2 separate regions of the Homo sapiens genome follow, and region 2 is linked to region 1. The links come from fine-mapping of genetic effects on gene expression. Tissue or cell type: whole blood. Region 1 holds a variant in brackets; the other region holds the start of a gene. All regions are shown on one strand. Distances are between the middles of the regions.

The links. PIP is the estimated chance that this variant, and not a neighbour inherited with it, causes the effect.
Region 2: CEBPA starts here. The variant in region 1 is fine-mapped to the expression of CEBPA in whole blood (TOPMed, PIP above 0.99).

The regions. Positions count from the first base shown.
Region 1 is chr19:33,343,226-33,345,977 of GRCh38, reverse strand. No RefSeq gene overlaps it. Among named protein-coding and RNA genes, the nearest start is that of CEBPG, 29 kb to the left of the region's middle. The variant T/C (reference allele first, on the strand shown) is at 1,490.
Region 2 is chr19:33,301,065-33,303,564 of GRCh38, reverse strand. CEBPA (CCAAT enhancer binding protein alpha) reads left to right here and starts at 1,031. Exons shown (of 1, transcript NM_004364.5): 1 at 1,031-2,500. The coding sequence starts at 1,151. The coding sequence ends at 2,227. CEBPA-DT (CEBPA divergent transcript) reads right to left here and starts at 744. Exons shown (of 1, transcript NR_026887.2): 1 at 1-744. RefSeq lists silencers at 291-550, 631-1,200.

The DNA.
Region 1 (2,752 bases):
GGCGCACTCCACTGCAGCTGGCTAATTTTTGTATTTTTTTGTAGATACGGGTTTCACCATGTTGTCCCGGCTGGTCTCAAACTCCTGTGCTCAGGTGATATGCCTGCCTTGGCCTCCCAAAATGCTGGGATTACAGGCATGAGCCAGAGTGCCCAGCCACATCAACTTTTTTAGGCTCCACATATGAGTAAGGTCACATAGACTTTGTCTTTCTGTGCCTGGCTTATTTCATTTAACATAAGGTCCTCAAAGTTCATCCATGTTGCTGCAAATGACAAGATTTCATTCTTTTTTAAGGCTGAATAGTATTCCACTGTGTATATATACCACATTTTCTTCATCCATCCATTGATGGACACTTAGGTTGATTCCATATCTCGGCCATTGTGAATAATGCTGTAATAAACATAAGAGTACAGAAATCTCTTTGACATGCCGATTTCATTTCCTTTGGATCTGTACCCTCTGGTGGGATTGTTGGATCTTATGGTAGTGCTATTTTTAATTTGTTGAGGAACCTCCATGCTGTTTTCTATTATTTCTGACTAATTTACACTCCCACTAGCAGTGCATGCTGTATTAAAAGGTGGTAAGTATCGTGGGGGTGGAAAGCGGAGGAGGCTAAAGAGGAACAGGCGTGGGATAAAGTACATTTTAAATAGCACAGCCGAGGCCACAGTGAGAAGGCCATGTGGAACCAAAGACTTACACAGTCCCATCAATAGGATCAAAGCCCCCAAAATGGGCCATGAGATTGGACTATCTAGAATGGCTTTCTAGAGATGTCGTATTACTCTGAAAACTGCCAAATTCACTTTTTCTCCTACCACCTGCTATCGTAGGTATAATCACAGCCACTCCCTTGGGAAATGTCTCCTCCCCTCCTCTCCACCTTCTCTTCAAGGATTATATATATAGGATTTGTGCTCACAGAGGCAGCTAGACTCCTACAAAGGAAAATGTTAAGTTCCTTTCTCTTGACAAGAGATGTGTTCCTGCGGGGAGAATTTTACTGTAACTGAAATTTAAGTAAAACTCACCGAAATGACATGCTTAGTGAATTATCTTTTAAAAGGGGCCTCTCCATCCAAAACACGTGCAAACAAGAGCCAGTGGGATCCACCCGAGAGTAGAATGTGTTCTCCTGTGCATGGATTTAGTAACAGCCACACTTATTTCCAAAAACTCACATGAGATCTGCCAGGAGTTTGCTCTCCTTAGAGGGAAGGGAAAAAGAGGCACCGGCATATGAGGAAAACCTCACCTTCGATTACTGGGATATTCATCAAGTCAAGATTGTCATTAAAACACACACACACACACACACACACATACACACACAAAACTGTTTTTGATACAGAATTCTCCCAGAATCACATGAGGTACACAGATGCCAAATCTTGTTAAGAGTTGCAAGGGTGAATCTCCAGCGAGCTCAGTTTCTTTTCTTTCTTTTTTTTTTTTCTCATTTTTCATCCAAAGCTGCATC[T/C]CTGAGCGCTCAGCTCTGCCCCGTGGGAGAAGGAAGAGGAGTTGTTGGCGTTGCCTTTGATTATGGGTTTCCATGGTATCCGGGAAGAGAGAGGAGAAGGGAGGGGCTTGGGAATGGCAACTGTAGACTCGGCCAGCTCTGGGGACACCTCATACCGAAATTCTCCTAAAAATCAGCTGGGAATAAGAGAACCATATCCTTAAGAAGAATCCGTGGTATAAATTAGTTTTGGATTCCTAAGGGATCAAGACCACATCTGGGTACGTTTGTTGGGTCTATTTCTGTCTCGTTTACCCAGGTTTTCTGTCCTAATTCTTTCTTCTCAATTCCATAATGAAAAGTAGTCTCTTATCAAAGCTCCTTTTTCTAAAAATAGTCAATTTAATGTTTCTCTGACCATGGAAAATGTAGTCCCTTAGGGGAAATTTTCAGAACTGTTGATGAGCAGCTGAATTAGAAACGCTGTCAGCAGCAAGGAGAGAATCACGCTGATTTGACCTCTTGGCCACCTGCCTGGCAAGGACCTAAGAAGATGGATACTTGCATTGTACTGACAAAAGTGTTTGTTGTTTAATGAGTTGCAAATCAGTATCAGGCTTGTTTGAGGTGCTTTCTTTTTCTTTTTCTTTCTTTCCTTCTCTTTTTTTGAGACAGGATTTTGCTCTATAGCCCAGTGTGGACTACAGGGGCATGATCATAGCTCACTGCAGCCTCAAACTCCTGGGCTCAAGTGATCCTCCTGCCTCAGCCTCCGGAGTAGCTGAGACTACAGGTGTGCACCACTGTGCCTGGCTATTTTTTTTTTCATTTTTTTTATAGAGACAGGGGTCTCACTATATTGCCCAGGCTCATCTTGAACTCCTGGCTCAAGCAATCCTCCCACCTCAGCCTCCCAAAGTGCTGGGATTATAGGCATGAGCCACTGCACCCGGCCTTGCTTTACTTTTCTTTCAAGGAACTAATAAGGGCACAGCTCTGAAATTTCACAAGACTAGCACGCAGATCAAGGAACAGAAGTCCCCTTGTGATTCTTATCCCAGTCTCCACCCTCCCTCCCCCTCAAACACCATGAAGTAGTTTTGCCTGTTTGATAGAAAACTTGATATAAATGCAATTCCATGGAATGTGCAGATGGTCCTCTTTCATATCTGGCTCTTGTCATTCCACATTATGTTCATGAGATTCACCTATGTTGGCAGTAGCAAAAGATAACTCATTTTTGCTACTCCATAAAATTCTACTGTGTGAATATTCCAAGATTTA
Region 2 (2,500 bases), 42 kb after region 1:
CGGCGGCCTGGACACCCTCGCTCCCGCCGTTGGCGCCCACCTGAATGGGGAGGCGGGGGAGGAAGCGGTGGCTTCGGGCCTCGAGGGCTGCGGCCCCCGCCTCGGAATCCCGGCCCCAGAGTTAAGTTTGTCTCCTCCCTCGGTGCGCCCCTCCCCGTGCTCGCCCCGGCGTCCAGCTCCGCTAGTCTGGGGGGCCCCGCGGTCCCGCAGGAAAAAAAATCGGCGACTCCACGCCGGGTAACAGCGCCGGCCCCGCGCGCCTAGCAAGCCGCGCGCTCCGACCTGGAGAAGTAATTATAAAGAAAGTTTTCCAGCCCGGGCGGATCGACCGGCCAGGTCCTCCAGGCTCCCGGGCCGAGGCCGCCTCCGCTCCCCGCGGGGTCCTAGCGCCCTGCGCGGCGCCGCCCATGGGACCCCGGCGTCCTCCGAGAGGTACCTCTGCGCGGAATCACAGGGGTAGCCTGGAGATCAGAGCTAGGAGACGCAGAGCCACCGCGCTCAGGACCTCTCCGCGCGTCCCAAACGGCCCCCCACCGGCCCCAGCCCCGCTGCTCTGCGCTGCAGCCTCCCCGGGACGCGGGTCCGGGACAGGCCTGGTTCTGGCTTTGAAAGAGAATCCGCGCCCCAGCAGCTCAAGACCAAGACTCGCCCTCCGCCCCCCACCCCTACCCCGTGCAGCCTCGGGATACTCCTGGGCTCCCGGCCGTGGCTGGATACGGGCGCCTAGGGCAGGCAGGAGGAGGGGGCCCCCGCTACCGACCACGTGGGCGCGGGGGCGACGGCCGGGCCGGGGGCGGAGCTTGGAGCGAGCGCCGCGGCTCTGCTGGGCGCGCTGGAGGCGGTGGGCGTTGCGCCGCGGCCTGCCTGGGGAGCGCGGCGCTGTGCCGCGCTGGTTCGCCGCCCCATGCCGGCCGCGCGCTAGGACCCAGCAGGCGCCGCGCCGCCGCAGCCCGGGGACAGAGGCCGCCTCGGACTCTAGGGGGCGACGCGGCCTGCCGGGTATAAAAGCTGGGCCGGCGCGGGCCGGGCCATTCGCGACCCGGAGGTGCGCGGGCGCGGGCGAGCAGGGTCTCCGGGTGGGCGGCGGCGACGCCCCGCGCAGGCTGGAGGCCGCCGAGGCTCGCCATGCCGGGAGAACTCTAACTCCCCCATGGAGTCGGCCGACTTCTACGAGGCGGAGCCGCGGCCCCCGATGAGCAGCCACCTGCAGAGCCCCCCGCACGCGCCCAGCAGCGCCGCCTTCGGCTTTCCCCGGGGCGCGGGCCCCGCGCAGCCTCCCGCCCCACCTGCCGCCCCGGAGCCGCTGGGCGGCATCTGCGAGCACGAGACGTCCATCGACATCAGCGCCTACATCGACCCGGCCGCCTTCAACGACGAGTTCCTGGCCGACCTGTTCCAGCACAGCCGGCAGCAGGAGAAGGCCAAGGCGGCCGTGGGCCCCACGGGCGGCGGCGGCGGCGGCGACTTTGACTACCCGGGCGCGCCCGCGGGCCCCGGCGGCGCCGTCATGCCCGGGGGAGCGCACGGGCCCCCGCCCGGCTACGGCTGCGCGGCCGCCGGCTACCTGGACGGCAGGCTGGAGCCCCTGTACGAGCGCGTCGGGGCGCCGGCGCTGCGGCCGCTGGTGATCAAGCAGGAGCCCCGCGAGGAGGATGAAGCCAAGCAGCTGGCGCTGGCCGGCCTCTTCCCTTACCAGCCGCCGCCGCCGCCGCCGCCCTCGCACCCGCACCCGCACCCGCCGCCCGCGCACCTGGCCGCCCCGCACCTGCAGTTCCAGATCGCGCACTGCGGCCAGACCACCATGCACCTGCAGCCCGGTCACCCCACGCCGCCGCCCACGCCCGTGCCCAGCCCGCACCCCGCGCCCGCGCTCGGTGCCGCCGGCCTGCCGGGCCCTGGCAGCGCGCTCAAGGGGCTGGGCGCCGCGCACCCCGACCTCCGCGCGAGTGGCGGCAGCGGCGCGGGCAAGGCCAAGAAGTCGGTGGACAAGAACAGCAACGAGTACCGGGTGCGGCGCGAGCGCAACAACATCGCGGTGCGCAAGAGCCGCGACAAGGCCAAGCAGCGCAACGTGGAGACGCAGCAGAAGGTGCTGGAGCTGACCAGTGACAATGACCGCCTGCGCAAGCGGGTGGAACAGCTGAGCCGCGAACTGGACACGCTGCGGGGCATCTTCCGCCAGCTGCCAGAGAGCTCCTTGGTCAAGGCCATGGGCAACTGCGCGTGAGGCGCGCGGCTGTGGGACCGCCCTGGGCCAGCCTCCGGCGGGGACCCAGGGAGTGGTTTGGGGTCGCCGGATCTCGAGGCTTGCCCGAGCCGTGCGAGCCAGGACTAGGAGATTCCGGTGCCTCCTGAAAGCCTGGCCTGCTCCGCGTGTCCCCTCCCTTCCTCTGCGCCGGACTTGGTGCGTCTAAGATGAGGGGGCCAGGCGGTGGCTTCTCCCTGCGAGGAGGGGAGAATTCTTGGGGCTGAGCTGGGAGCCCGGCAACTCTAGTATTTA